Homo sapiens: one gene and its partner. The protein of the gene in region 1 purifies or fractionates together with the protein of each later gene. This does not show direct contact. Each region holds a gene or a part of one and is shown on either strand. Other genes may lie near its edges.

Region 1 (3,656 bases):
TCTGGAAAGATACTGAGACCCTGGTAATGGTGGTTGCCTAGGGTCTAGGCAACAGGAGCAGGGAGTGAGCAGTACATTTCACTCAATACTTTTTTTTTTTTTTTTGAGATGGAGTCTCGCTCTGTTGCCCAGGCTGGAGTGGCATGATCGATCTCGGCTCACTGCAACCTCCACCTCCTGGGTTCATGTGATTCTCCTGCCTCAGCCTCCTGAGTAGCTGGGATTACAGGTGTGCGCCACTATGCCCAGCTAATTTTTTTGTATTTTTAGTAGAGACGGGGTTTCACCATGTTGCCCAGGTTGGTCCCCATCTCCTGACTTCAAGTGATCCACCTGCTTCTTCTTCCCAAAGTGCTGGGATTACAGGCATGAGCCAGTGTGCCCGGCCATATTGTCCCTAAAGAATAAAAAATTCAGCTATTTCTTATTTTTCTTAACTATAAAAATAAGGGGTCCAGCTGGCTAATCTGTAGGTCTCAACTTTAAAGTGCATTGCTTTAGGTTCCATATTGCATATTGAATGCCTACCTTTTACAAGGTAAGAGGGAAGGGTCTTTGTGCTTGAAACCTTTGGGTCCTGTTTTCTTCCCATGATGTCACATCACTAGAGTAACCCCTTAAACAGAAGTCCTTTCTGATCTACTTCCTCATATTCTGGGAAATGGTAGATGATTGATTTTTCTTTGCTGTATGAGAAGAGAAAGCCTGCATGTGTGTCTGGAAAGCGTTTTGGGATACCCTCTTGCAAGGTTTCCATAATTCGCTTGGCTCCAAATCATAAGCTGTCCTGTCCTGGGGAGCCCACCCCAACCTGAAGCCCAACCCAGGCCCTCACATACCTGGCTTTCTTTCTTTTCTTTTCTTTTCTTTTCTTTTTTTGGAGACAGAGTCTCACTCTGTTGCCCAGGCTGGAGTGCAGTGGCGTGATCTTAGCTCACTGCAACCTCCACCTCCCAGGTTCAAGCGATTCTCCTGCCTCAGCCTCCCGAGTAGCTGGGATTATAGGCACCTGTCACCACGCCTGGCTAATTTTTGTATTTTTAGTAGAGGCAGGGTTTCACCATGTTGGCCAGGCTGGTCTCGAACTCCTGACCTCAGGTGATCCACCTGGCTTGGCCTCCCGAAGTGGTGGGATTACAGGCGTGAGCCACCGCACCCGGCCACCTGGCCTTCTTTTTTAACTTGGGGTCATTGCATCCACTATTATGCCCCTTCCCACTCTGTCCCCAGTTTCCCCTAAGACATCTGGCCTGTGGTTTTTATGTATAACAACACTGGAAAAGCCCAAATTCTTGAGAAGATGTGATCAGAGGGGTGTTTTGAATGGGAGGGCCCTACCCCCCTTCTCAAGGATGGCTGTCTTTCGCCTTGGATGGTGTGGGCCCTGGGAGGAGCTGCCGGCGCTGCTGTTGTGCCCGATTGACTCCTTTCCTGAGTGAAGTCTGGAAGACCCCATCAGGGTCCTGAGGTCCTGCAAGGCAGCCTCCGGGCCTCCTGGGGGAATGGTGTGAGTCACACATGAGCACACACTATGAGACTGGCTCTAAAATGGGACCGCCACTGCATGGGCGGGCGGCCTGTATCTGTACCCAGCTCCCTGTCCCTTGTGCTTAGATGGCACCAAATATTTGGGAGGCAGGAGGGGAGCTGCCCACTCTGATGCATGTCTCTTTAAAAAGTAACCTAGGCTTCTGTTGGAATTACTCAGGTTCCCATTCCCACGATTAGCTTCTCGAGCCTGAGATGATTCAGCACCCGGGCAGGTGTCCCCAGAGAAGGCCCTTAGCTAGCCCGCCAAGCGCTGGAGCAGCTGGGAGTCCCTCAGTGGCTGTCTGCATCTCTAGCCCAGGACCCTCCTGCTGTGGCTGGAAGGAGCCTTTGCAGGGCCTTCCGGAAGGGTGTGGCTTCCTGCCGTGCAGGTTGGGCTAAGGCCTGTAGTGGGGTTACAGGTAGCTGATCTTCCCCACCCTCGAGTCACTTCCTTGGTACTTCTCAGAGGCCCTTACCATCCTTATGGTATGTCCCAGAGGAGAAAAGGGGCTTCTCAGGGAGGTCCCTCTCTTGCCTTCTTAGGCCAAGATGATGTCTTTCTGTACAACTTTTTATTTTTCTGAGACGGAGTCTCGCTCTGTCACCCAGGCTGGAGTGCAGTGGCGCGATCTCAGCTCACTGCACGCTCCACCTCCCGGGTTCACGCCATTCTCCTGCCTCAGCCTCCCAAGTAGCTGGGACTACAGGCACCCGCCACCACGCCCGGCTAATTTTTTTTGTATTTTCAGTAGAGACGGGGTTTCACCGTGTTAGCCAGGATGGTCTCCATCTCCTGACCTCATGATCCACCCGCCTCGGCCTCCCGAAGTGCTGGGATTACAGGCGTGAGCCACCACGCCTGGCCTCTCTGTACAATTTTTAATGTGTTGGGGGAGCTCGAAGCTAATCTCTGAGTAGGTTGCCACTCACCAAAAGGACGTGGGCCTTAGAAAGAAGAGCCTTTCTTCTTGCATTTTAACTCTAATTTGAAATCATCCCCTGCTTAAAAGAAAAATCAGCAACAACAATGAAAACCCTCCCTACTGGATTTAGAATTATAGAATGCCTGGCTGGAAGAGATGTTGGGAATAATTAAAATAACATTTCTTTTTTTTTTTCCTAATTAGAGAAAAAGCGATTTGCTTAAGCTCATTCTGTGAGTCGGTAGAAAACCTTGGCCCCTGGTTTCGCTCATACCCAGTGCCTTTCCAAATCAGGAGGCTTCATTTAAGCGTGTTTTCTAAATGGTGACTCTCTTTTTTTTTGATGTTTATGCCCTGTTTAGCCAAGCAACACATACTGAGCTCCTTTAATCTTTCCTTAAGAGTCTATTCTTCTACTCCCTTCGTCTTTTTTGTTGTTTTTTGTTGGGGGGCACTAGGGTTAAGGAATGGGGTGGGAAGTGTTTTGGGTTTCTCTGAACTTCTTCCAGCTGGACGTGACCACTTGGGCTGAAAGTTCCCACAGCTCGAAAAATCAATATTTCACATGGGGTGGTGCCAGGCAGCAGGGTGGGCCATTCAGAAAGCCACACTGCTGCCCACTGTCCTCAGCCAGCCCTGATTTCTAGTAACTTTAGGTCACTTAATGTCTCCGGTGATAATTTGTTATATTTTCAACACAAAATGCACGGGAGAAGGAACAAAATAAAGTTTTGGGATCAGGCAGAGCTAGGAGCAGACCCCCCGCCTTTTCTCCTGCTGCTCGCCTTAGTTTTCCCATCTGCACCGTGGAGAAGCCTCTTTCTTAGCATTATAAATGGATGTGAAGTGGTCTGTTCCTCCTCTTCCTCCCCTTCATCTCTCTTCTTTTTTTATGAGACAGCGTCTTGCTCTGTTGCCCAGGCTGGAATGTGGTGGCGCGATAGCAACTCACTACAGCCTCGGCCTCCGTCTCAAGCATTCTTCCCACCTCAGCCTCCTAAGTAGCTGGGATCACAGGTGTGCACCACCAGGCCTGGCTAATTTTTTTTTTTTTTTGTAGAGACAGGGTTTTGCCATGTTGCCCAGGCTTGTCTCAAACTCCTGAGCTCAAGCAATCTACCTGCCTTGGCCTCCCAAAGTGCTAGGATTACAGGTGTGAGCCACCTCGTCCAGCTTCTCCTTTTCTTCATAGTAACAATAACA
Region 2 (3,656 bases), on another chromosome or scaffold:
ATGTATTCCTTCTTCAAAAGATGTTTGAGAATGTACTTGGTGCTAGGAATACTAGTGAATAAAAAAGGCAAAGTTTCCGTCTTCAGGGAATTTGCATTCTATGGTGACAGAGACTCACCAAAAATAGAGAATGAAATAATATGTATGTGTTCTGAAGTAAAATAAAGAAGGATAGTGGGGGAAAAGAAAATAATAGGGGCTATTTTAGATAAATAAGGAGGTCGGGGAGGAACTCTCCGAAGAAGCAGCAGTTGGGAGGTATGGTAGTCATTAAAATTCTGACAAATATTCTGTTCTCCTTCTAGACACTTGGTAGGACAACACTTTCCTGTGTTGTCCTCATAAAGTAAGATGTAGCCATATGCCCTGAATTGCTCAGTGTCAGTGGAGGTGACCTCTGCCACTTCTCGATAGGAGTCTTAAGAATTAGTGGATGACTTGCTGTGTCTTTTCCTGTCTGGTCTAGTGACAAGCAATGTTTAGATTTTTCTGGGTCCTGGAAGAAGGACAAGAAGCAGAGCCTGTAACAACCCTCAAAGGGCACGTGGCAAAAGCAAACAATAACACTTTGTTGCTTTAAGTTACTGAAATTTGGGGATTGTTTGTCATCACAGTGTAACTTAACCCATCCTGACTGAACAAGGGATAGAAATCCTAGATATAAATGTGTTCTGGAAGCTGCAGAGGACAATACAAATAGACTCTGGGAGGCCAGTATTCTGGTCAGCTGGTGCAGTGAGTGAGACAGGCCAATCCACTTCAGGAAACACTGAAGGAAACACCTCATTACAGCTTAGTACAATAATGGAGCTTCATCATGATGATTCTGCAGGATCACAGAAAGATTAAATTATATTTGGCATACTCTGTTTAAGAAAGAGAATGACTGGGCGCAGTGGCTCAAGCCTGTAACCCCAGCACTTTGGGACAGCTAGGCAGGAGAACTGCTTGAGCCCAAAAGTTCAAGACCAGCCTGGGCAACATAGTGAGACTCCATCTCTAAAAAAAATTAAATTAAGTGTTTTTAAAAAGAAAGGGAATGGTGTGATACAGTTCAGAAAAAAAACTCACAAATGAGCAAAAGCTTCAATGATCTGAAATATTCCTATGGGCTGAATCACCGGAGGCTAATGCATACTGTTAATAAAATTGCATATATTATACTATTCACTCTTTGTTCTTTTATTAGGTGTCACATTTTGTGTCAAGTGCTCAATATACTTTATATAATTTAATCCTCACTACAACCCTGTGATAAATCCAATGGATTGTTGGAAATCACAGTTACTAAGTGGCAGAGTTAGACTTTGAAAGAATGTCTTTACTGGTATTGCTAAATACCTCATGTGATCATCTATCCTTGCTTGTTTTCAGAAATTGTTTCTCATGGTATGAATGGCATATAATTCACTTGGAGCTGAAATGGGAGTTCACTCATTTTATAAAAATATGACATTGACTTTAAAAGAATTTATTTACTATCTCACCTACCAATGATAGATCTTTAAAACTTAACTCTGATAAGGGAAAAGTAAATTGAGTAAGTCTTTCATGAGCACTGATTGCTTAGTCAGCAACACCAAAAGGGCATTAGGTGCACAGTGCTTTCATGGTTTGGTAAACTCTGGTATTTTTCTGTTTCCATGATGGATACTCCAAATTTCCTGTTGAAGGTAGAAAATGCATTCAAGTGGACAGCTTAGAGAGCAGCCAGAAGGGAGGGGCAGAGTGTGTGACAGGTGGTGGCATGACCAGTAAAGACTTTTCATATGATCATGGAGAAATAATGGACTGGAAGTGGCTTTAAGAGCCATGAGAGTGAGTTTTCCACTTTTCCCTATCCTGTGGGACAACGACTATAAAACAGTTTCCAGGGGCCACAGAAGGAGGAAGTACCTGGAGAAGCCTGAAGTAACTTTATTGGCTTATCCTGGGAACTCCTAGATTCCTGAGAAGACAGTGTCCTCTGAAAACAGCCTTGAGGGTCCTGTTTTGATTTTCCACTGGCATTGGATTTATCATGGTAGATCACTGGACTCTTCAATTTTAGGTCCCTGTACATCACTATTGCAATTTCTTTTCTTTTTTTCTTTATCTCTCTTCCTTTTTCTTTATCTCTCTCTTCCTTTTTCCTTCCTTCCTTTCCTTTCTCCCTCCCTTCCTTCATTTCTTCTTGATGCAACTTATTATTCTTTAGAATTCTGCACTCTTTTTTTTTTTTTTTGACACCGAGTCTCGCTCTGTCACCCAGGCTGGAGTGCAGTGACGCGACCTTGGCTCACTGCAACCCCCGCCTCCTGGGATCAAGCGATTCTCGTGCCTTAGCCACCCGAGTAGCTGGGATTACAGGCACACACCACCACGCCTGGCTAATTTTTGTATTTTTAGTAGAGATGGGGTGTCACCATGTTGGCCAAGATGGACTTGAACTCCTGACCTCAAGCAATCCTCCTGGCCTTCTAAAGTGCTGGGATTACAGTTGTGAGCCACTGTGCCCAGCCTGCATTCATATTTTGTGTGTTTCAAGCACTTTTAAGCTTTATAAGTGCGCAAAATAAAGTAGCATTAAATAAGATTTTTTGTAAGCTTTTTTATTTTAAAGATCTGTATTTGGCTGGGTGCAGTGGCTTATGTCTGCAATCCCAGCACTTTGGGAGGCTGAGGTGGGTGGATCACTTGAGGTCAGGAGTCAAGACCAGCCTGGCCAACATGGTGAAACCCCCTGTCTACTAAATATACAAAAAAATAACCAGGCCTGGTGATGCATGCCTGTAATTCCAGCTACTTGGGAGGCTGAGTGAGGAGAATCACTCGAGCCGGAAGTTGGAAGTTGCAGTGAGCTGAGATTGCACCATTGTACTCCAGCCTGGGAAACAGCATGAGAATATGTCTCAAAAAAAATCTATATTTAAACTATAATGTTCACCAATGAAATTACACACCTTTTCAGATACAAATGAAGGACCCAAAAGGACTAGATTATTGTACAGTACTTTCAAGTCTTTACCCAAAACCAAAACCAAATAAATATATTCATGTTAAAATAGGAATGTGAATTATTTATACTACACTGATGAGATGGATGGCTCTAAAGCTGCATTCTGCTTCATTTTTCTTATTCAGCTGCCAAGTTACTGCAATTAATGACTAAATCTTAAGACCATCTGACAGCTTATTCCTTCTAGATTTACAGTAATGACTGCTTTTAGTGACATTTCCAACTAACCAAAAATATCTTTCAGAGAATGTTTATTAAAATTGTTAAATATGTTAATAATCAAAATTAAGGAAAACAATAACTTTTATCTACTGAACTATATGGAATTGTTTACTATGGGTTCTTTGTAACTTCATCCCATTACATTTGGACCAAACACAGATTGCAGAAGAATGAGAATCAGCAAAGTAGACAATGTGTCCAATGAGAGCACTAATAATGATAACATAGATGATCATCATGAACACCATATTTAAATTATTTGAATTTCAGCCCTCTTATTAATATACCACAAGGCTACCTTTTTATTGATGTACTTTGGAACTAGTCCTGAAGGCTCAAGATCATGCTTGTCTCCAGTTCTTTTATCAACATAAATTGGTTTAGGCTTTTTAGCCACTCCCATGATGATATCAGCTGCATTTGTATTTATAAAATT

Evidence for each region.
Region 2: the proteins of MYH9 (region 1) and ENKUR purify together in Homo sapiens (affinity purification with western blotting; 4 studies listed by BioGRID, with this or other methods). This does not show direct contact.

What each region holds. Positions count from the first base shown.
Region 1 is NC_000022.11:36,377,965-36,381,620, reverse strand, and holds part of MYH9 (myosin-9), read left to right. Parts: intron 1-3,656. UniProt on the Homo sapiens protein: Cellular myosin that appears to play a role in cytokinesis, cell shape, and specialized functions such as secretion and capping. Required for cortical actin clearance prior to oocyte exocytosis. Promotes cell motility in conjunction with S100A4.
Region 2 is NC_000010.11:24,992,128-24,995,783, forward strand, and holds part of ENKUR (enkurin), read right to left. Parts: coding exon 3,519-3,656; intron 1-3,518. UniProt on the Homo sapiens protein: Adapter that functions to localize a calcium-sensitive signal transduction machinery in sperm to a calcium-permeable ion channel.